Linked DNA regions of Homo sapiens. The protein of the gene in region 4 purifies or fractionates together with the protein of the main gene of each other region. This does not show direct contact. Each region holds a gene or a part of one and is shown on either strand. Other genes may lie near its edges. The genes, in order: ECD, WDR4, RPRD2, DNAAF10, RPAP2, PPP3CB and CRCP.

The links.
Region 1: the proteins of DNAAF10 (region 4) and ECD purify together in Homo sapiens (affinity purification with mass spectrometry, with the first as the bait; one large-scale study listed by BioGRID). This does not show direct contact.
Region 2: the proteins of DNAAF10 (region 4) and WDR4 fractionate together in Homo sapiens (co-fractionation; one large-scale study listed by BioGRID). This does not show direct contact.
Region 3: the proteins of DNAAF10 (region 4) and RPRD2 purify together in Homo sapiens (affinity purification with mass spectrometry, with the first as the bait; one large-scale study listed by BioGRID). This does not show direct contact.
Region 5: the proteins of DNAAF10 (region 4) and RPAP2 purify together in Homo sapiens (affinity purification with mass spectrometry, with the first as the bait; 2 studies listed by BioGRID). This does not show direct contact.
Region 6: the proteins of DNAAF10 (region 4) and PPP3CB fractionate together in Homo sapiens (co-fractionation; one large-scale study listed by BioGRID). This does not show direct contact.
Region 7: the proteins of DNAAF10 (region 4) and CRCP purify together in Homo sapiens (affinity purification with mass spectrometry, with the first as the bait; one large-scale study listed by BioGRID). This does not show direct contact.

Annotation. Positions count from the first base shown.
Region 1 is NC_000010.11:73,158,009-73,161,508, forward strand, and holds part of ECD (protein ecdysoneless homolog), read right to left. Parts: intron 2,544-3,500; coding exon 2,426-2,543; intron 1-2,425. UniProt on the Homo sapiens protein: Regulator of p53/TP53 stability and function. Inhibits MDM2-mediated degradation of p53/TP53 possibly by cooperating in part with TXNIP. May be involved transcriptional regulation. In vitro has intrinsic transactivation activity enhanced by EP300.
Region 2 is NC_000021.9:42,876,740-42,880,700, forward strand, and holds the start of WDR4 (tRNA (guanine-N(7)-)-methyltransferase non-catalytic subunit WDR4), read right to left. Parts: upstream 2,801-3,961; 5' UTR 2,757-2,800; coding exon 2,668-2,756; exon of another isoform or gene 2,425-2,667; coding exon of another isoform or gene 2,348-2,424; exon of another isoform or gene 2,253-2,347; intron 29-2,252; coding exon 1-28. UniProt on the Homo sapiens protein: Non-catalytic component of the METTL1-WDR4 methyltransferase complex required for the formation of N(7)-methylguanine in a subset of RNA species, such as tRNAs, mRNAs and microRNAs (miRNAs).
Region 3 is NC_000001.11:150,474,607-150,477,066, reverse strand, and holds the end of RPRD2 (regulation of nuclear pre-mRNA domain-containing protein 2), read right to left. Parts: 3' UTR 501-2,460; downstream 1-500.
Region 4 is NC_000002.12:68,140,528-68,144,027, forward strand, and holds part of DNAAF10 (dynein axonemal assembly factor 10), read right to left. Parts: intron 1,269-3,500; coding exon 1,167-1,268; intron 1-1,166. UniProt on the Homo sapiens protein: Key assembly factor specifically required for the stability of axonemal dynein heavy chains in cytoplasm.
Region 5 is NC_000001.11:92,323,059-92,326,558, forward strand, and holds part of RPAP2 (putative RNA polymerase II subunit B1 CTD phosphatase RPAP2), read left to right. Parts: intron 1-386; coding exon 387-1,317; intron 1,318-3,500.
Region 6 is NC_000010.11:73,440,525-73,444,024, forward strand, and holds part of PPP3CB (serine/threonine-protein phosphatase 2B catalytic subunit beta isoform), read right to left. Parts: exon of another isoform or gene 3,265-3,500; intron 1-3,264. UniProt on the Homo sapiens protein: Calcium-dependent, calmodulin-stimulated protein phosphatase which plays an essential role in the transduction of intracellular Ca(2+)-mediated signals.
Region 7 is NC_000007.14:66,145,847-66,149,346, reverse strand, and holds part of CRCP (DNA-directed RNA polymerase III subunit RPC9), read right to left. Parts: intron 1-3,500. UniProt on the Homo sapiens protein: DNA-dependent RNA polymerase catalyzes the transcription of DNA into RNA using the four ribonucleoside triphosphates as substrates.

The DNA.
Region 1 (3,500 bases), on a different chromosome or scaffold from region 4:
TGGAATGTAGTGGTGCAATCACACTCACTGCAACCTCTACCTCCTGGGCTCAAGTGATTCTCCTGCCTCAGCCTCCCGAGTAGCTGGGACCACAGGCATGGGCCACCACACATGGCTAATTTTTGTATTTTTAGTAGAGATGGGGTTTCACCATGTTGGCCAGGCTCGTCTCGAACTTCTGACCTCATGTGATGCTTCCGCTTCGACTTCCCAAAGCGTTGGGATTACAGATGTGAGCCACCGCCCCAGGCCTACAATGTATTGTGTTCTTGAAACTTGCTAAGGCAGTAGATTTTAAATGTTCGCACCACACACAAAAAAATAAGTATGTGAAGTAATGTACGTTATGAGCTCAATTCAGCCATCCTACAATATATATGTATTTCAAGACAACATGTTATACATAATAAATATATAAAATTTTTATTTATCAATTTTAAAAATAGGCTGGGCGCAGTGGCTCACACCTGTAATCCCAGCACTTTGGGAGGCTGAGGCAGGTGGATCACTTGAGGTCAGGAGTTTGAGACCAGCCTGGCCAACATGGTGAAACCTTGTCTCTACAAAAAATACAAAAATTAGCCAGGTGTGGTGGTGCACGCCCATAGCCCCAGCTACTCAGGAGGATGAGGTAAGAGAATTGCTTGAGCCCGGGAGGCAGAGGTTGCAGTGAGCCGAGATTGTTCCACTGCAGTCCAGTCTGGGCAAGAGAGTGAGAGCCTGTCTCAAAAAAATAAAATAAAATAAAATAGAGCACAGTGGCATGTGCCTGTAGTACCAGCTGCTTGGGAGACTGAGGCAGGAGGATGGCTTGAGCCCAGGAGTTCAAGTCCCGCCTGGGCAAAATAGTAAGACCCCGTCTTTAAAAAACTAAATAAATAATAAATAAATTTAAAACATTTAAAAATTTTAAATAAATTTATTTAAAGATAAAAATAAAATGAGTTATCGCTTAGATTTACATCCTGAAATATTTAAGGATCAAATGACAGCTACAGATGAAATAATAATGACCATGAGTTGGTAATTGTTGAAGCTGGATAATGGGAACATGTGGGTTCATTCTTTCTACTTTAATGTATGTTTAAAATTTAAATAATAAGTTTTCAAAGGTTTTTTTCTCCCTTCTATTTTGTTCTGTTGGGAAAGAGGTTGAGTGGGTAAAAAAAGATCAGAATTTGGGTGCTGACTAGGAAAACTAGGACAAAATATAAGTGGGCGGAACGCCCTCTGCTGGCAATACGTGGTTAATTACAGAAAACCCAGGTCCCATTTTTAACGTAATGTTACCTACTTTGCTTCCTATACAATTGTGTTCACTGACTTCTCTTTAAATTGTTTCTGTGTATGATTTCTCAAAAAATATAGCTATGGTCTAGTACAGGAATACATATTTAAAAATACGTGAAATATGTGTGTATGTGTATGAATGGAATTTTATTTTTCAAAGATCCACAAGGAATTTAATGGTGATTACTTCTGGGAAGCAAGAGCAGTAGAAACCTTTGTATCTTTTGAATTTTGTTTACCACATGTATTTGTTTTTTCATAATTAGAACTTTAAAAAGAAAACCTAAAATAAGTAGGTTTTATTTGAAATCTTTTGGAAGTTGAACTCTTTGACAGTACTTTAATTTTTTTTTTTTTTTTTTTTGAGACAGTTTCACTCTTGTTGCCCAGGCTGGAGTGCAATGGCGCGATCTCGGCTCACCGCAACCTCCGCCTCCCAGGTTCAAGCAATTCTCCTGCCTCAGCCTCCCGAGTAGCTGTGATTACAGGCATGTACCACCATGCCTGGCTAATTTTGTATTTTTAGTAGAGACAGGGTTTCTCCATGTTGAGGCTGGTCTCGAACTCCTGACCTCAAATGATCCGCCTGCCTCGGCCTCCCAAAGTGCTGGGATTACAGGTGTGAGCCACCGCGCCTGGCCGTGTACTTTAATTCTTTCTCAAGAAAAGGAAGCCACAAGAGAAGAGAAAGAAAACACAGATATGGCTGGGCGCGGTGGCTTACGCCTGTATTCCCAGCACTTTGGGAGGCCAAGGTGGGTGGATCACCTGAGGTCAGGAGCTCCAGAGACTAGCCTAGCCAACATGGTGAACCCTTGTCTCTACTAAAAATACAAAATTAGCCAGGCGTGGTGGTGCACGCCTGTAATCCCAGCTACTTGGGAGGCTGAGGCAGGAGAATCGCTTGAACCCGGAAGGTGAAGATTGCAGTGAGCCAAGATCACACCACTGCACTCCAGCCTGGGTGACAAAGCAAGACTGTCTCAAAAAAAAAAAAAAAGAGCACAGATACTATTAAAATCTGTACAATTTCCAGCAGACTACAGGAGAAAAATAAATTACTAAATAGATAAAAATGTAGTCACTTTGTTTCAGTAATAGAATTCCTTTAGAATAATTAAAATAACTACAATACCTTGCTACTAACTCTGGAAATTCCTTTGTGATCTGCTTTATTACATAAACAATAAACCATTCATCCTCAATGTTATCCCCAAACTTTGTCACGCCAAACATATGAGCAGGAACACCTCCTAAAAACAAGAGAAAAGCAACCATGTAACCAGATAAATTTGTTACTGCAAATAAAATGCACATAATCATTCAACTGAATACACATTCATTGACTGATTGCTCTAAGTACTGGGGAGCAGGGGTTGCAATCCTGAAGAAGAAGCCTACTCCTGAGGAGCTCAGGGTAAAACAAGACAACCAAATGATCTCAAAACAAGATAATGAACTCTAGAACAGGAGTGTGCAGTAACGGCTATGTGAGTATAAAGGAGGGGATATCTGTGCTATGCTTGCCTGGAGGAATGACAAGAGGTGAGCTTTCCAGAAAAATGGAAAAGTATGTGCAAAGGCACAGAGGCATGATGTATAGAGTATGTATGTATAGAGTATTCTGGGAATACCAGGACGCTAGATTTGGATGGAGCAGAAGTTTTCAAACATGTGCACTATTCACAAACACATGGAAACTAAACAACAACACACTCTTGGAATAAATCACAGGGAAATTAGAAAATATCTTGGGACAAATGAAAATGAATGCACATCATACCAAAACTTAAGGAATTCAGTGAAAGCAGTGCTAAAAAGGAAGTTTGTAGTTGTGAAAGATCTCAAATCAACAACCTATACCTCAAAAAAAAAAAACAAAAACTAAACCCAAACCTAGCATAAGGAAGGAAATAATAAACATTACAGCAGAGAGAAATATAGAGACCAGAAAAAATAATAGAAAAACAAAACAGCTGAGTTGGGTTTTTTTTAAAAGATTGACAAACTATTAACTTGATTAACCAGGAATAAGAGCAAATACTCAAATAACTAAAATCGGAAATGAAAGAGGGGACAGTACAACTTATGTCATAGAAATAAGAAGGATAAGAGAATTCTATGAACAATGGTATACCAGTAAGTTGGATAACCTATAAGAAATTGACAAATTCCTAGAAACACAACCTGTCAAGACTGGATCATGAGAA
Region 2 (3,961 bases), on a different chromosome or scaffold from region 4:
GTCATAGATGAAGAGGCTGTCATCATCACTAAAGAGAAATAACAATAATTTTAAAAGGAGTTATCATTAGAGAGAAATAACAAATTTTTTTTTTTTGAGACGGAGTTTCGCTCTCGTTGTCCAGGCTCCAGTACAATGGCACGATCTTGGCTCACCGCAACCTCCGCCTCCCAGGTTCAAACGATTCTCCTGCCTCAGCCTCCCCAGTAGCTGAGATTACAGGCATGCACCAGCACTCCCAGCTAATTTTTACTTTTTGTAGAAACGGGGTTTCTCCATGTTGATCAGGGTGATCTCAAATCCCCAACCTCAGGTGATCCACCAACCTCAGCCTCCCAAAGTGCTCACAGGTGTGAGCCACTGCGCCTGGCCCATGTGAGCCACTGCGCCTGGCCCTAATTTTTTTTTTTTTTTTTTTTTTTGAGTTGGAGTCTCGCTCTATCACTCAGGCTGGAGTGCAAGGGCATGATCTCAGGTCACTGCAACCTCCCCCTCCTGGATTCAAGCAATTCTCCCGCCTCAGCCTTCCCGGTAGCTGGAATTACAGGTATCTGCCACCACGCCTGGCTAATTTTTGTAGTTTTGGTAGAGACGGGGTTTCGCCATGTTGGCCAGGCTGGTCTCAAGCTCCTGACCTCAGATGATCTGCCCGCCTCAGCCTCCCAAAGTGCTGAGATTATAGGCAGAGCCACTGCGCCCAGCCTAACAATGATTTTTAAAAGAGCACTTTGTTAAAAAAAAAAAAAAAAAGTTGATTTTTTTTCTCTGTGGAACAAAAAATATTTGCACACTCATTAAATTAAAAGTTGTATACTTGACAAGAAAACTGTCTAGATACAATATTTCAGGGAACAGTTAACAAACTTTATTTGCTTAATCTCTTATTGGAGTACGTCATACTGCATAGTTCTGTGGGAAAAAAAAGTTCAGTAAAACAAATGAGGGATAAATACTCAACAGGAATTAATATGCTATTCTTTTAGGCACCACAAAATCTATGCGACATGGTTATAAGAAATTACGGGCCGGGCGCGGTGGTTCACGCCTGTAATCCCAGCACTTTGGGAGGCCGAGATGGGCGGATCACGAGGTCAGGAGATCGAGACCAGCCTGGCTAACACAGTGAAACCCCCATCTCCACTAAAAATATAAAAAATTAGCCAGGCATGGTGGCAGGCGCCTGCAGTCCCAACTACTCGGGAGGCTGAGGCAGGAGAATGGCGTGAACCCGGGAGGCGGAGCTTGCAGTGAGCCAAGATCGCGCCACTGCACTCCAGCCTGGGCGACAAAGCGAGACTCCTCAAAAAAAAAAAAAAAGAAAAAAAAGAAATTATGTTCTGATACTGTTGAGCGTTCAGTGGGATTCTGTATACAAATTTCAAAGAGCCATTACTATTTAGAAACATATCTCACCTACCTGAAAGTGTTCCCATGACCCCAGGCACTTACCAACATAAGAATCACCCATTTTCCATACTGAACCTAAACTTCGGTTTATCCCATCCTCACCCCCTGGCACGTATCTTGTACATATTTATAGCCTTTAAAGCGAGTGCACCAAAAAACTTTCCATATGGAACCGTGGACTTGTCTTCCAAGTCAGAAACTCCACCAGCCACTAGAATTTCCTCAAAATGCAAAGACTGAAGGTAAGCAAATCATGTCTAATATATCCACAGCTCACTCTGGCAGATATTAGACCGTGAGTCTCTAAAACAAAATCATCTGGGATATGTGACGGGTTTCTGAGTACAATTTTTGTGAGACCTAACTTAACATCGAATTGGCTTTCTAAAACCAAACGAACAAAAAATATACAGTATATCTGACAGACACGTCGTCCGTTTCAAATATGAAATCACAAATAACCTGGGAAAGGAAACGAGGGGCTGAAACTGACAGCACTACTAATTGCTCCGAGAGTCCTGAGTTAGGACTGTTCCATCAACAAACATTTACTAAGTTAAAAATCCCCTGCGTCGTCCTAGCACTGGCGATACACTAAGGAAGGAGAATAAAATTACGGAAAGCAAAACCCGAGCCGTGCGAAGGGCCACTAGGGAGGTGCGCACTGCGAGCTCCACGTGCACCCTTGGGTTGGGTAAGTGTCGGAGATGACTTGGAGCCCTAAGGAGCAATTAAGGCCAGGTGAGTGGATGCAGGCCGGGAAGAGGGAACAGACAACCCTGCAAAAAGAGGGAGCGCGCTTGGAGGTCAGTGAGCTCGCAGTGAGTAAGCCCCTCCCTTCTCACCAGGGAGACCCGAGACCCGCTTCTTCCCAGTTCTGCAGAGCGTGTTCGGCCGGGCCTTGCTGACTGGTCAGCGTCGCCCCACGTGCTCTACCTACCCGGTCCCCGCCGGCGCCGCGGAGACCGGAAGCGACCCGGCGGCGCTAACCGGGCAAGAACACCGCAGACCAGCCATCTAGTGCAAGGAGCGCGCCGGAGCCGGGGAGCGGACGCCGAGAGCGGACGGCGAAAGCGGACCCTCCAGGCGCAGAGACGCGGCCAGGCCGAGACTGCGGCGGAGGACTCGTGGGCTGGAGCGGAGTTCCCCGGGGTCACCCCAGAGTGGGTGCGACCAGGCGGTGCGGGAGAAGCGGGGTCGCCAGGACCCGACGCGCGCCCGCAGCCTGGTCTCCCTGTTCCAAGACCAAGGCCCCCTCACCTGCTTGCTATGGAGGTGGCCAGGAATCGGCTGCCGCCCCGCACCACCAACGTCTGCCCGCACAACGCCAGTCCCACAGAGCCCGCCATGTACCCGCCCGCCTCACCGCCATACACATGTGCCAGCCCAGAGCCTCTTCCTGTCCGCACCGGTCGGTGACGCCAGGCGCAGACGCCGAGAGATGACGTATACCCCACGTACCGCGCATGCTCAAGGACGAGCCTGCCTTGAGCATGCGTGAAAGGTGCTGTGACCGCCCTCCGGGTTGTGGCTGGTGGCCTTCGGTGTTTCGGGTTTGGCAGTTCACTCACCAAGGTGATCTGATGGAGTGCACTTCGCACGATTCCAAGTACTTGCCTAATGTTCATCCTTTCCTCTAGACGGGGTAGGGCTGGTTCTGGATCTTTTTCCGCGGTAGCTGGAGAGACGTAGGACCTGATGATGGCTACTAGATGCCTGGTAAATGATCCTTCAAGAAGTGAATGAACCGGGGGCCGTGGCTCACATGAAGTCAGCAGTTCGAGAGCAGCCTGACCAATATGGTGAAACCCCGTTTCTACTAAAAGTACAAAAATTTGTTGGGCGTGGTGGCGTGCGACTGTAGCCCCAACTACTTGGGAGGCTGAGACAGAAGAATTGCCTGAACCCGGGAGGCGGAGGTTGCAGTGAGTCGAGATCGCCCCCGCTGCACTCCAGCCAGGGCGACAGAGCGAGACTCTCTCTCAAAAAAAAAAAAAATGTCCAAGATGTGGTCATGGGTGAGGGTGTCTCGGGTGGCGTCAAGTCTGAGGTCGCTAGAAGTAAGCCTACTGAATCTTTGCACTTAGACAAGCCACAGATGCCTTAAAATCTCCGAACTGTAGTGATATTTTCAACCCAAACTATGGTTAGTTTCCAGTGTTCATCCCAAGATCCCCAAAAGCCTCTTACAATCCCAGCATCAGGCACAAAATCTAGGATCTCACGGTCTGTTTTAGATTGGCTTGTCCGGTGCAGCTCCTCTTGATCCAGAGACTTACAAACTAAAAAGATTAATTTTCTCTCCCGTGCACGCAATATATGATGGTGAGCCGGGACCAGATAACCACAATAAATACTTGCATGTGAAAATGAGAAGAGGAGGAGACACAGTAATCACTGGTCCAAAGCAATTCTGAAATCCTACTGGAAGATGTTTTCAGGCCCTACAAGAATAAGAAGTCTTAACCAGGCCCGAGTTCTGCTTCCTGGGAGTATCTCCCCAGGCTGTATCTCAGCACAGCTCTTGCCTCTGCCCTCTTGGGTGTCCCTCCTT
Region 3 (2,460 bases), on a different chromosome or scaffold from region 4:
TTAAGTGCAGAAGTCAAAGGGGACATCTGGAAAAGATCAACAGGAGGGGAAAAGTCAACCACACAACAAAGGAAACCATACTTTATTAAACTGGAAAACAAAATAATGGGGACAAAGGGATTAAAAAAAAAAGGAACGTCTGGAAGAGAGTAAAGTGCAAGTGGTTACGAAGTGGGTGGTCTGTGGTATCTCTGTGTGTGCCTGAGAAATGTGTGGGCGCACACACCACTACTCCCACCCCCATACCCTTGGACCAAAAGCCAATACAACCATATCTTCTGAGATATATCCAGGCTTTTCCTTCTGCATTCTCTAGTTGGTTTCACCTTCGGCCCTGGACAGTCAGGCTGGGTCTTTGCTAGAGAAAACTTAGGTTTTCCAACCACAGGCCTGCTCCACAAAGCAGCGGTTTCAGCTCCTGAGAAGTTCCCTCCTATTTGCACTCACTAGGAAGCCAGGGGCCCCTGGTCCAAGCCCGTCTCAAAGAAAAATGTCAAACCTTTCAAACTAGTTATTTTATTAAACGATATTAACACACATTTCAAAAGGATTTCATTGTTGTTGCTTCTAAAGCATGTACTTGTTTTGTTTTCCACACCGAACACGTGAGAATATCAATCCAACATATCTATTTTAGATCTTAACAGGCGCCCCCGCCCACTTAAAAAAAATAGTGGGGGAACTGGGGAAAGCAGTAATTTACAGCGGCTTCAAAACAGTAACAGCTGAAGCTCAATTCTGCAGGAACCGGTAACTTCAGGATTGAGAGTGAATATCCTGCCATTAGGAAGTTTATCGTATTCACATTATCTCGATAGGTTTGCTGGACCCATATATATCACAAACATTTTATTCCTGGTATTGGAAAGTATAAAAGTCCTATTCTCTGCTTATTTTCCCCTCCCTGGAATCAAACCAAATTCTATTTACTCTCAACTTTTGAGAGGGTAGAGGGGAGCAGGGAGAGAGCTCTCATCTAAGCTGACTGAAGAGTAAACTCTTTCAAAATACTTAAGGACCCTATTTCTGAACTGTATCACTGAACTTTAAGTGGTACTAGTGTATTCACAACCCCTACCAATTCTCTGTCTGTGATTTTACAGTGAGTACCAAGGACCTTACAACTTCTCACATTCTGCTTCCATATGAATCATGTCCTTGCTAAGACACACTATGTTATGCTTTCTTTAAAAAATATCTTGTTTATTTGTTTAAACTCAGGTTGAAATACAAAAGTCAGAGCATGGTCACGGAGTTTTAAATCACAGACACAGAAAGAATAAAACCCCTTTCTTTCACGTTATGAATACCAGAACTGTCTTTTCTGTTTCACTATTTATCACATATATACACACTGTCATCTTCATTTACTGATGTAAATGTAAATTTTAAGATTTCCTTAAAATTAATAGCTGACAGTCTCATACAAATCCTCACTTCCATCCTAAAACAAACATATTGAGGATTTTGTGGCTTAAAAAACAAAAAAGTACCCCACAAAAACCCAACTCCTTAAAAGCCCACCTTCGAAACTGTCCAACAAAGTCTTCCTTTCATGTATTAACCATCATACTTTTGAGGACAATTATCCCGCCCCAACGTTCAGGAAGCCACTTTCCTGACATCCCCACATTTTCTGATAAAAATTAAATGGTCAGAGAGCCTTATCAAGTAAACACTACTTTTAGCTTAAACAAGAGCAGCAAAGAGAATTCACATTCTTTTATTCTAGAATGAAAAACATCCCATTTAATTTCTGCAAAAAAAAAACCTATTTCAATTTTGAAAGTCAAATATCATTTCCCCACCTCCCACCCCATTTTCTCTTATGCTTTTCCCTAACAAATGTCTTAGGACTCAATATAACTATACTTTCTTTTCTTTGCTACACTACATACCCCATCCCACACGTAAGGTCATGGTATCATGCATTTTTGTGGGGAGAGCTACAGGGCAGAGAGGGTCGAGGAAAGAAAGAACAGTTGGCTTAAGACCAGACAGGCATTAAGAAGATGAATGACCTGCAGCATCCTAACCCCAGAACACATGGCGAGCCCAAATAAATAACAGAATAAATTACGCAAAAACTCCCAAATCATGATGTGCACCTGGTTTATGCTGCTCTTTCTCTGAAAAGTTCATTCTGAGAGAATCATTTTCTGTCACTACATTGCCCACCCTCCCCCATCTTTAATATTCTACTGGAGGAAAAAGCAACCCCATACTTCCTATAGTTAGTTCTATACTAACTTGGAAGAAAATATGAAACTTGCCAGAATTCTCTGGAAAACTAAACACATACTGTTTTACTCATCTAGCTGGAGATTATCAGTTGAGTATGCCTTGGGGTAAGACACTAAATTAAAAAAAAATTGTAGTAAAGCAACATTTACTTTTCAGTGTCCCTAGATATAAAGATATAAACACTCAAAGTACAGTGATTGTCTATTTCCCAAGTAC
Region 4 (3,500 bases):
CCTTCTCAGTGCTTGTAACTTAGGTCTTCCCTGGAATACTGCAAAGAGCTCTTGAACTCATATTCTCTGTACCACTCATCACTCCCGCTAAATACCACTAGTTCATTTTCCTAAAGCTCGGATTTCATCTCTTCCTTGCAAACACCATCAAAAACTTAGAACTATCTTCAGGCCGTCCTAACACCTCTGGCCATTGTCCTGAGCCATCTCTAAGGATATTCCTACTATTACTCTCTTCTACCGTTGGCCCTCCCTATCCATGGGTTCTGCATCTATAGGCAACCAACAATGGATCGAAAATATTTGGAAAAAAATTTGCATCTACACTAAAAACGTACAGACTTCTTGTGCTTGTCATTATTCCCTAAACAATACAACAATGACTGACACAGCATTTATATTATATTAGGTATTATAAGTAATCTAGAGATGATTTAAAGTATACGGGAGGATGTGTTAAACCATTCATGAGAACTCCGCCCCCATTAATCACCTCCCACCAGGCCCCACCTCCAACACTGGGGATTACAATTGGACATGAGATTTGGTGGGGACATAGATCCAAACCATATCAAAGGGCAAATGTCAATTAGTCTTCCAAAGTCAATATTCATTTTAAGTAAATTAATGAAGGAATACAGTTATCAAAATTTATAAGAAATAACTTTGTAATGGCAAACTATTTTCTAGAAAATAAACATACTCCGTATATAGCGTAATGTATGATTTGTTAGGTAACTGTTTGCATTTGAGGCTTGGTTTATCCCCATTAATGGTGTCTGACTTTAAATTAGGTCAATATTATCTAGTTAAACAGGAACACATAATAATAAGCACAATTCTCAGCACTTTACATGTAATTAACTCATTGACTCTTCATGACAACACAACTAAGTAAATTCTATTATTAATTCCATTTTATAAATGAAACATCCAAGGAACAGATAACTTTGGTAACTTGCTCCAGGCCACATGGCCAATAAGTAGCAGGTGAGAATTCAAACTCAGGCCCCAGAGGCTGACATTAACCACCACGTGTATTTGCCTCAGTAAACTATTAGAATAATCCACAAAACAGACCATAAAGAGACTACTGTGAAATTTCTTGCAGCATCGTGCTTTTTACCATCTGATAATTCAAATGCAAGAATTCTTCAATAATTTACCAAATGCCACAGTCCAACAGTCTCTCTTGTTTTCTCCTTGTACAGGTTCCATATTAGCAACAGGATCATCTTTTTGCCTTGGGTCCCACACCTTCACAGTTCCTGCCATGCATAAAAGTGAGTTGGCAAAAATTCAAAAGTAAATGATTATGTTTCTTTTCTACATTCTTCTTCTATGGCTTCCTGTGTACATGGCAATATGACAGATGTTATGACATCTGAAAATATCCACATTGTTCTGACTTCTAATTGGGTAAGTTGTATTTAATATCAGAGATATCACCCATATGTAACTATCTGACTTGGTTTCCAAATTAATAGACACACAGAAAAGCCAACAAGTGTTCCTAAGTTATCTACGAGTGATGACTGACAAGGCAAATGTGAATGTTACGTAATTCAAATCATGAGCCTAAAATGAATGTGTTATTTTTTAGGGAAAATACCAGTGTTGTTTTAATTTTTACTTTTTTCCTTATTACCCATTTTAACCATTGGCATGAATACACTCTAATTTTGAATTAATGGTTTCTTATGTGAGTTCTAGAATACTATTTCTTTTTCTTTCTTTCTTTCTTTTGTTTTGAGATGGAGTCTCACTCTGTCGCCCAGGAATGCAATGGCGTGATCTTGGCTCACTGCAACCTCCGCCTCCTGGGTTTAAGCGATTCTCCGTCCTCAGCCTCCCAAGTAGCTGGGACTACAGGCATGCACCACCACGCCCAGCTAAATTTTGTACTTTTTTAGTAGAAATGGGGTATTGCCATGTTGGCCAGGCTGGTCTCAAACTCCTGACCTCAGGTGATCCACCTGCCTGGGCTTCCCAAAGTGCTGGGATTACCGGCGTGAGCCACTGTGCCTGGCCTAGAATACTATTTCATATACAGTTAAGTTTAATTTTCCTGTGGCAATAGTGAAGAGGAAAATGTTAAATAAAATTAACAAATTCTCAATTTAATTTCAACCCCCTTGTTTTAATTCATGTTATGGGACTACTTACTAAAATAGTGTCACTACCTACAAAAAATGCAAATGCATGTAATAAAATGGCTAAAAGGCAAGTACCTGAGAATAAGAAAAGGGCAAAAAAAAAAAAATCCTTAAAAGGAAAACAACTCAGGAAAGGTGGAGGTACAACATTAGATTTATCTCCAGGGATAAAATAAAGTTGATCATTAAAAGGCTGCTTTACTTTAATATTTATTTATTTAGAGACAGGGTCTTGCTCTGTCACCCAGGATGGAGTGCAGTCGTGCGATCATGGTTCACTGTAGCCTTGACCTCCTGGGTCCAAGTGATCCTCCTACCTCAGCCTCCCAAGTAGCTGGGACTATACCACCATGCCTGGCTAATTTTTAGTTTTTGTAAAGATGGGGTCTCCCTATGTTGCCCAAGCTGGTTTCAAGTGATCTTCCCACCTCAGCCTCCCAAGTGCTGGGATTACAGAGATGAGCCACTGCACCCACCAAAAGCCTGTTTTAAAAAGAAAAAAAAAATCCCAGATATAGAGATAAGAGATTATCTTTCTCTATAGGATTCATACAAATTGATAAGATCTCAGCCCACTTCAACCTCCCACTGCCAGGTTCAAGCAAAACTTGTGTCTCAGCCTCCTGAGTAGCTGTGATTACAGGTGTGTGCCACCACACCTGGCTAATTTTTGTATTTTAGAAGAGACAGGGTTTCGCTATGTTGCCCAGGCTGGTCTCAAACTCCTGGTCTCAAGTTATCCGCCCGCCTCAGCCCCCAAAGTTGTGGGATTATAGGCGTGACTGTACCTGGCCCAATAAATTTTTTAAAAAATCATAAAATATATTTATTCCAAAAGAGTTACACATATGACAATACTCATTTACTCATTATTTTTAAGCCACTCTCATAAGACAACAAATAAAAAAAGCAAACCAAAGGCTTATAAGGGAATGGTTAAGTACGGCCATATGATGGAATATTATATAGTCATTAAAATGATAACTGTGGAAACAGCAACATTTGCATATGACAAAACATTAAATAAAAAAAGTTTCTAAGATACAAATTCATATTCACACTTATAACTATGCAAAATTATATATAAGACCTAAAAGGAAAAGAAAAATCTAATGGTTGTGGTAGTGTGGTAGACTGAATGTTATTTTTCCCTCTATACTCAATATTGCTTTTATGATTAAAAAAAATAAGTGATTTCTAAAACACAGCTGCTCTTGAGTACCCACTAGAAAATTATATCTCACTTTTCCTTTAAAGCAATTTCCTCATGGTCTTGAGCGGCCATTAAACAACTAGCCAAATCAATTATAATAGGTACCAAATTTCTCATGTACCCCTCGTGAA
Region 5 (3,500 bases), on a different chromosome or scaffold from region 4:
TACTTTATATATATATTTATATATATATATATATTTGCAACAACAGGCAAATCCAAATAGTGCAGTAGGATAGCATTATCAAGTTTTTTAAAAAGTTTTGCTGTACTCCTGTAACAATTTTAAAATAATTGGGGGAAAAAGATGAAGGAAGAATACAGAAGGAGAACTATATCAAAAAATATATTATTAACAGATGTACTGAAATTATAGGCTTCTTCTGAAATTTATATATCAGAACCTAGAAATAAGGTTTTGTCTGGGGAATAAAAATTTCTACCTTGAAAGTTACAATGTATAAATACTATGGGGTACTTTACTTTTCTATTGTTTTCGGGTTTTATTTGCTATTTTTTATTTAGTTATTTTATTTCTCTTTCATTCTACAGTGGCCATTCTGGAGAAGAAGTACAGTTATGCAGTAAAGCCATTAAAACATCAGATATCGACAATCCTAGCCACTTTGAAAAGCAATATGAATCTAGTTCTTCTAGCACTCACAGTGATAGTAGCAGTGACAATGAGCAAGACTTTGTTTCCTCCATTCTACCAGGAAACAGACCAAATTCAACAAATATTAGACCACAGCTGCACCAAAAAAGCATAATGAAAAAGAAAGCTGGTCACAAAGCTAACTCCAAACACAAAGACAAAGAACAGACAGTAGTAGATGTCACTGAGCAGTTAGGCGATTGCAAATTAGATAGTCAGGAGAAAGATGCTACATGTGAACTTCCTTTACAGAAAGTAAATACTCAGAGTTCTTCAAATAGCACTTTGCCTGAAAGATTAAAAGCGTCAGAAAATTCTGAAAGTGAATACAGTAGGTCAGAAATAACTCTAGTAGGCATAAGTAAGAAAAGTGCAGAGCATTTTAAGAGAAAATTTGCCAAATCAAACCAAGTGTCTAGGTCAGTGTCTAGTTCAGTGCAGGTGTGTCCTGAAGTTGGAAAGAGAAACTTACTTAAAGTTTTGAAGGAGACTTTGATTGAGTGGAAGACAGAAGAAACATTGAGGTTTTTGTATGGCCAGAATTATGCTTCTGTGTGTCTGAAACCCGAAGCCTCTCTGGTTAAAGAAGAACTTGATGAAGATGACATAATCTCAGATCCAGATAGTCATTTCCCTGCCTGGAGGGAATCTCAGAACAGCTTGGATGAGTCTTTACCTTTTAGGGGCTCAGGTACAGCCATTAAACCACTGCCAAGTTACGAGAATTTGAAAAAAGAAACTGAAAAGTTAAATCTGAGGATCAGGGAGTTTTACAGAGGACGGTATGTTTTGGGTGAAGAAACCACCAAATCACAAGACTCAGAAGAGGTATGTCTTACAGACATTGAGTTTTTCCAGATCGTTAACATTTGGAAAACTCACCACAGCAAATCTTGGAGCAGGAAGGATATTGAAGAGTTAATTGTTAAATTTTCAAATAGTTTCTTTAGTCATTCTGCCTTTTGGTTTACAGTGCCATCTCCACTGTTGGCATTACTATTTTACAAATAAGTTGACGTTTACCCCTAGCAAATTTTCATCAGTGTGCAATATTTTTTTCTAATGTAAAAATAGCCTAAAATGGTGGGACAAAGTTTTCCCTAATTCTTCATACAATAAATGAAGCCTCTGAAGAGGCTTGCTTTTTCTTCTTCGGTATTCTTTCAGATTTTTACATGGGGTCTGTGTGTGTGTGTTTAATGGAAGTATATGCCATGGAATAGACTTGGTAGTTACATTGGAAAATATTTAGCAAGCATGTCCATTGAAAACATTACAGATCAAAATAGTTTGTAAAAGAGACTTATTGGGAAATAATGGACAAAGAGAATGGAAAGCACATTCAGATAGACCTAGATTTGAACATCTGTTGTGTCATTTACTAGCTGTATGAAAAATTAGTTTCTTGGTCTGTTTGCTCATCTGTAAATGGAACTATTAATAGCTTCTCTTGCTCAATTGTTATTTGTTTTAAAGATAATGTGTATAAAGCATTTATCACAGTACATGACATATAATTGGTACTCAGTAAATAGTACCCATATGTAGAGATTGAAAATGTGCCACTGAGATTTAGAGAGCATCTTTTAGTATTTCTACTACCCATCTTTGATTGATGTATACTCCCTGGAAAATGAAGTCATTTAACATGAAGAGGAATGGGTAATAACCTTGTTTTTACCACAAAACTTTGTTCTCAAATATTCCTAAGTAAATGTGGCTCTAAATTTAAAAGCACATTGGAGATTTGGAAAGAGGGTAGAAGTAGAAATGTAGTAAAAAATTTAGAAATATATTTCTATAGAGTGTTGCTTGGCCCAGCACCCTACTTCAAATCATTTCAAGTATCTTATTAGACATCATCCAAAACTTATATTAAGCTAGGAGAAACATTGATCTCTGTCACTGAGCTGCATAAACCTACCATAGAACATCACTTATTTTATCATTTTGTCCTTTTTAGCCTTAAAAAGGAAAAAATAATCCCTGAAATTTGACTTTTAAAAATTTATAACATTTTCCAAAAATGTTACATAACATGTTAAAACATTTCCATTGAAGTACAACACAAATAGTAATTATATGATTTCTTGAGTATTCACATATGAATGTCCTGATGTAATCACTACCCAAGCCAAGAAATAGGTCATTACAAGTAAACTAGAAGCCCCATATATATCCCCTCCTAATCAGCACCTCTTTCCAAAATTAATATTATATTAGCACAGATTAGTTCTGTCATTTTTTTTCCAGTATATATTCTTGGTGTCCAGTTTATTTCATGCAATATTATACTTTTGAGTCATTTGTGTTGTTGCATATAGCTGTAGTTCATTCTTTTATTGCTGTATAGTATTCCATTATATAAATATACCATTTATTTATGCTAATGGACATTTAGACTATTTCCAATTTGGGGCTATTATGAACAATATTCTTAGGAACTTTCTCGTATTTATCTCTCTGCTAATATGCGTATGTATTTCTGAAGTATCTAGGACTGGGAATGGTGGGTTATCGTATATGCATATATGCAACTATACTAGATAATGCCAAACAGTTTTCCAAAGTGGTTGTACCGGTTTACAGTTCCACTACTACTATATGGGAGTTTCCTTGATTCCATGTCCTCCCTGGTACTTGATATAGTTAGTTTTAGCCATTCTGGTAGTATTGGTTTATGATTATAATACATTACTGTGATGATGAATAAATTCAGCACTATTTTATTTGCTTATTGACCACTTGGATAATCTCTTAGGTCAGGTCTGCAGATCTCTCAGCCATGGATACCAGCACCTGCTCTGGTGGAGATGGCAGGGGGGTGAAATGGATTCTGTGAGGATCCTTGCTTTTGGTTGTTTAATGTACTATTTTTGTGCTGGTTAGCCTCCTGCCAGAAGGTGGCACTTTCAAGAGAGCATCAGTTGTGGTAGTATAGGGAGGATCAGGCTGTGGGTAGGGCCGTAGAACTCCCAAGAATATATGCCCTTTGTCTTCAGCTACCGGAG
Region 6 (3,500 bases), on a different chromosome or scaffold from region 4:
GGCTCTGTTCTTTGTGGGGGACCTGAAAGGACTTCTCCTGTCTACCAGTAACTTCCTTTCTATTCTAGTACTGATGTTCCAAATACCTACAGATACTAACATCTATAGCCTTAAAAAATTCCATTTATACTGACAGAGTTTATCATGAACTCAAATTTGCCTCAGAAAAAGACTACTGAGCATCTTTTCAAACTCATCTACCAATTAAAGAGACATTAAGGAAGAGAAGTGAGGTCTTACAGGCATAAATTCTAATTATTTCATGATATAGACACATAGGTCATATTATAAATAAGAAATACATTATTGGTATAGTGTGTCACTGGTCCATTTAGAGAATTTCACCATAATTAGTCAAACATTTTATAGTCAAAGATTCTTTTTTTCGCTCATTTCTGGGTTTGAACTGTATAAAGAGCTCACACTGAGGACCAGGACTCAAGATAGCACACAACAATACTGGTTTACAATATTGTCCATTCCCCTTATTACTCAGAATATTTGTAAAAGTAATGCCCTGGTCTCTCCTATTTTGCTTCTTCTGCAATAAGGCCAATTAGAATAATTATTCCTGAAGTGATCTTTTAGCAATTAACATGATTTAGAAATAATTTTATCCAAAGCAATTATTAATGTAAAAGAAACTGATGAATCTAAGGTATTAAAGTGAACTAAGTTAGAAAATGTTGATCTTAACCAGACAGTAAAGTGAATTGGGGACCCAAAAGAATTAGGACGAACACTGAATAAAGGAAGAGTTAATTTTCCTTAACTGTTAAACTACATTACAAATCGGGCAGGACATGGAAGATCATGCCTATAACCCCAGCACTCTCGGATGGCTGAGGTGGAAGGATCCCTTGAGCGTTTGAGCCCAGCCTGGGCAACACATAGAGAGACCTCATCTCCCCCCAAAAAAAGTTTAAAAAATTAGCCGGGCATGGTGGTGTGCATATGTAATCCCAGCTACTCGGGAAGCTGAAGCAGGAAGATCACTTGAGCCCAGATTGCTAATTGCAACACTCTATCTGAAAGGCACTATTTCTCCTCTATTTGTTTTCAGTTATATAGGGCATCTTGTCATGGCCTTAATAAGTTTGAGCATAGTGCTATCTCAAACTGTGTTCCTCAGTACTATGCAAGATAAATGACCAAGAGGAATTTGGTATTACTAACATAGAATTGGCCACATATATTTCCCATATAGATCCTGGTGAGGGTAGCATTACAGTGCTAGCTCCCAATCAAATTTCCCAGAAAGAAAACATACATAAAATAAAGATGAACAGAAAATCCACCTCCAATAGAGTTGTGCAGTTTGTAAAAACACTCAAGAAACATCATGTAAATTAACTTTTAAAGTTCTTGAAACGACAATTTTTATTTTCTGACAAATAGGCACGAGGTCTTAGAATTAAAATTTTTTCCTTTTGCAATACCTAACTCTCAGTTATACACACTAACATCAGGGAACATTATCTACTAAAATTTAAAATGTAGGATAACTTTTTAAAAAATAATCACAAACATGCAGCTTTTGTATGACCTTTGTTATTTGTTTCAAAGTGGATTTATCTTATGCTAGGAAAATAATTTTGACCAAATGCCCAAACCACACTATCAAGAGCTAGCAAAACTAGAAGCTATCTAGTTTAAGGGGTCCCAAATTAGACCCCTTAAACTCAATTCCTTCCAGTAACTTAGTCCATGCTGAGAATAGAGAGTCCCTCCAGCAAAGCTGCTGTCTTTCAAACCTCCCCTGCAGTTGAGGGTGGTTTCAAAGTTGAAGGAATGAGCTTCAAGCCGTGTACAAATTAAGAATAAACAGAAGTCAACAAAGCATGTAATTAGCAGGGGCTAATCGTGAAATCTGAAAGCAAGGTTTGCTGCGGATACAATATAAAAGTAATGTTATATCCAAGGATAACTGAGAGATGACTATACTGTAGATTTATTTAAGTATGATACCCTTTTGGTTTTATTTTTCTTTTCTGAACAAAGAAGAGTATAATATTTTTGAAGCTATTAAAGTTCATCCTTTTCTATTAACATTTTTACTAGTTTTATCAAATGTTTAAGATCTTGTTTTAATGTACATTCATGAAATTCTTTTTAGTTCATTTTTCTAATGTTTACAATATAATAAGAAAAATGGAGGGCAAGGAATGTAAAGCAAATCAAAGCAGGTTGTTTTTTTTTTTTAAAGAAAATCAAAAAAAGAAACCTCATTCAGAATGAAAATTTATAATTTCAAAACACAGTGTACTTTTCAGATATACCAGTGGTGGTAGTGAACAATACAATGACATTTAAAATAGAACATGTATAGGCTACAAGTAAAAATTGTTTACAGGAAAAAAATTTTTTTTATTGAAAAGCAATCATTGGCCAGGCATAGTGGCTCATGCCTATAATCCCAGCACTTTGGGAGGCTGAGGTCAGAAGATTGCTTGAGCCCAGGAGTTTGAGACCAGCCTGGGCAATACAAAAATATAAAAAAATAAAAAATAAAAAAAATAAAAAAAATTAGCTGGCTGTGGTGGCATGTGCCTATGGTCTTAGCTACTTGGGTGGCTGAAATGGAGGACTGCTTGAGCCCAGGAGGTTGAGGCTGCACTGCACTCCAGCCTGGGTGACACAGCAAGAAACCAGACCCTGTCTGTCTCTCTCACACACACACATGTACACATGCACACAAAAAAAGAAAGACAGAGAGAGAGAGAGAAAGAGAGAGAGAGAGAGAGAAAGAAAGAAAGAAAGACAGAAAGAAAGAAAGAAAGAAAGAAAGAAAGAAAGAAAGAAAGAAAAAGAAAGAGAAGAGAAGAGAGAAAAGAAAAAAAAAGAGCACTTATTATGGAACCAAGTGAAATGAAATTGTGAAGTCAAATGTAAATTCATTCAAAACGTTAAAATTGCCTATTTTTTTCCCTCTAAAAAAGTCACTAATTACAACACCAAAAAGAAACCTAATTATGACTAAGGAAAACATCAGATCTGTTGCTATTTTAATAGACAATGACCCTTAGAGGGCTGTCAAAAGTGACTACAAGAAATTCAGGCTTTTCCACATCATGTATTTTTGCTTTCCAACCACAGGAAAAGAAATCTAGACTGAATTACTGTGTATGGTCACTAATACTCACATCACTCTCTTCTATTTAATCTGTAATGGGCTTTTAAAAAGTTAACCCAGTATTTACACAAATATTTACGCCAAAAAAAGTTTTTTAAGTATAAAATATTCAATGAGCCAGATTACAGGAATGCTTTACGTATAATTCTTTTTATTTTCATGCAAAATAAAGGCACACTTAATAACACCCTTTCAATTTTGACTTACAGGATTTAAATTCAACCCCTTATAACAATGACTTAATATCTAATGTTACATTCATGTTCAGAATGCACAAAGTGCAGCAACAAATGCAGCAAACCTCAAAACAAGGTGCTACAAAGCTGCTTCTACATTGCAAGACAGACAAGTGTCTGATGGAGTAATT
Region 7 (3,500 bases), on a different chromosome or scaffold from region 4:
AGATGGGGTTGCCCAGGCTGGTCTTGAACTCCTGGGCTCAAGTGATCCTCTCACATCACCCTCTCAAAGTGCTGGGGTTATAGACATGAATCACTGTGTCCGGCCTTTCACCTTTTCTTTCCAACACAGGAGAAACAGTCCAAATAAAGAAGTAAAGTTCAAAGCACCATCTCAAGGTTCTCAGATACCAACCATTTCAGGTAGTTGAGAACATAAGGGGAAATAAAACTTAAAAATCCAAAGTATCAACAGCTGGGTTAACATAAATGATACATTTATTATCTCAATCCCAGGAGCATCAAACCGGGTTGCCGACCTCCAAAAATGGCAACTTGAAGTCGCCAAACCTAAAGTCCTACTTTCCTCAAAATGATTCAAAGATCTGATAGCAACAATGTATACTATTAAATATTTGATCCAGAACAGTTCACTGAATCTGGCTTTCTAAATTTCAACTTTCTCTAATGTAAAATGAAAGTAACGCCTACAGCGAGGACAAAAGGAGAACACATGTAACAGTGTTTTACAAGCAATAACGCTCTATATGAGTCAAGACTTCATAATCACGAAATCACTAACAGGCCTAGATGGTAGTGCTGTTCAGGGCAGTGGCCTGTGAGGTCACAGGATTCACTGACCTCAGGCCGGAGGGCTCACAAATCATTCCAAATCAATACACAACCGGGCACAACAAGTCCTAAGCTGGGTGGCCACCTCATTTCCTCACCGAGCCTCTGAGTCAGCAGGCAGTCATCAGAGGGCCACAGCAAATCACAGCCCAGGCGTAACTGAAGAGGTGAGGCTTCAGCCTCCAAAAGACACCTGGCTTCCAAGTGAATGCTAATAAATGTTGGATGCTGGGACTGTTTTCTGAACCCAGGGAGAAAAAATGGCTCTAGTGTTAATATAGGGAACTTCTCACTCAAGTCCTTTGTGCTTGCCACTGTAAGTGAAACCTTTTATTTCCTTTTGTTTTCTAGAGAAGGAGTTTCGCTCTTGTCGCCCAGGCTGGAGTGCAGTCACGCTCACTACACTTCGCTCACTACAACTTCCGCCTCCCAGGTTCAAGCGATTCTCCTGCCTCAGCCTCCCAAGTAGCTGGGATTACAGGTGCCCGCCACCATGCCCAGCTAATTTCTGTATTTTTAGTAGGGATGAGGTTTCGCCATGTTGGCCAAGCTGGTCACAAACTCCTGACCTCAGGTGATCCACCCACCTCGGTCTCTTAAAGTACTGGGATTACAGGCGTGAGCCACCGTGCCCAGCCATTTGCTTTTTTTTTTTTAAAAGACAGGTTCTTGCTCAGTCACACAGGCTGGAGTACAGTGGCACTATCATAGCTCACTGCAGCCTTGAACTTCTGGGCTCAAACAATCCTCTCACCTTAGTCTCCTGAGTAGCTGGGACCACAGGTGTGCGCCACCATACCTGGCTAATTTTTTTCATTTTTTGTAGAGATGGGGTCTTACTATGTTGCCCAGGCTGGTTTTGAATTCCTGGCCTCAAGCAATCCTCCCACCTTGGCCTCCCAAAGTGCTGGGATCACAGGCGCAAGCCACCATGTTCGGCCACAGCTTTCATTTCTTATTCACTCTGGTGAGAAGCGATACTGCTACAAACCTTGGTAAACAATTTGCTACCTTTTGTAGCCAAATTCCAGAGTGGGAAGAATCTGGCTATAAAATGGTCCAACTACTGAGAAACAGCAGTTTCTACCAAGGCCTACCTACTTTGTAGAAACGAGAAGGAAACCATCTCAGGGGATGCCACACACATCTTTCTTCTCATCAAGCACAAGTACCTGGCTTGGAGGAGCAAAGTAAAGCTTCTGAATCAGAAGGTCCCAATCAGCCACTCACCAGCCCTCTGGGCTAAAATGGAGAGGACACTTGCCCCCTTCCAAGACTATGGGGCGGGCATTCGAAGTGACAGACAATCACAGGCACCAGGACCAAGGACTGAGACCGTGTCTGGCACACCCCATGCACTCTTTTTTTTTTTTTTTCCCAAGATGGAGTCTCACTCTGTCACCCAGGCTGGAGTGCAGTGGTGCAATCCTGGCTCACTGCAACCTTGGCCTCCCGGGTTCAAGTGATTCTGCCTCAGCCTCCCAAGTAGCTGGGATTACAGGTGTGCACCATCATGCCCAGCTAATTTCTGTACTTTTAGTAGAGATGGGGTTTTACCACTTTAGCCAGGCTGGTCTTGAACTCCTGACCTCAGGTGATCTGCCCACCTTGGCCTCTCAAAGTGCTGGCATTACAGGCATGAGCCACCGCGCCCGGCCCACCCCAGGCACTCTCAATAGCAGCAAATCTTCCCCCAAGTAATGATACCACTTTCCACAGGCTCTGGCTGAGGTCACACTAATCCTCATCTCTTCTCTCTGCCTGTCATTAAGCCATGAGTAACATATGTTGCTGATTAAAGCTGGAGGAGACATGACATATGATCTTTAACCCAGAGGGACAGGGATTCGTTTCTTGCTGTTCTGTTTGTTTTTTCTCTCCTCTAAGCTCTAGGTTGAAACTCCAATACAGTGTAAAGCATGAAAATAATCAGGACACATGAGAAAGGGGTTTCTATTTAGCCTACAGGCGGGTTCCCAGAGAAAGGCACCCTTCATGAAAGGAACTGTTCTAATTTAATTTTGGGTACATTCTGAAGGGCAAAAACAACCCTAGGAAGACAATGAACAATTTAGTAAAAAATTAAATACCCTGTGGCCTTTTAAAAAGTTTTTCCATTAGCAACTCTAAAAATCGTATTTTTGACCATTTTCTTCCATACTTTTCTAAAGGAAATTTGACAAAGAGCTAAGTATTTCTAAAACTGACTTTGGAAACTGCTTTATTCTCATTTTGTTAATTCTCTAAAGTTTCTTCTTCTTTTTTTTTTTTAAACTGGCAATTAGACGGCCTGCTTAACACTTGTCAGGTACCGATGCTCTCTGCCCTGTAATAAGAAGGCAGCGGCCACAGCGTGCCCAGTGGTGGCCCGGGTATCTCCCTGGATCATTTCCCGGGCCCCTTATCCCATCGTAGGCCCCTCTACTCTGGCTGCCTCCTCCTATTCCAAAGCCTACGCTCTCAGTACAAAGCGGACTTCACAAGTGATGAGGCTGTACTAAATAAACGGTTTATGCAGGGAAATGGGATCACATTCATGGTTTTAGATGTGATCTCTGACGGTGATGTGGGAGATGGACTTGGGGAGCCAGGGAGAATGGGGAGAGGATAACCGCAAGAGCCGCGTGAAGAAATAATGGCAGAAATCAACGCAGTACACGGGGGAGAGAAGCAAGAACGAAGACAGAAGCAACAGAACTTGGGGACTCCCTGACTGTGAGATGAAAGGAAGAGAATGGCTTGCAGGTTTCCGGCGTGGGAGGCCAGGCCAGGAGATGAGCAAGGAAGGGAGCTGATGGGACAGCGCACACATGCTCCCCTCACCCAGAAAGAGAGGAAGCAAGAGCAGGGTGAAGGGTGGGCGTGGGGACA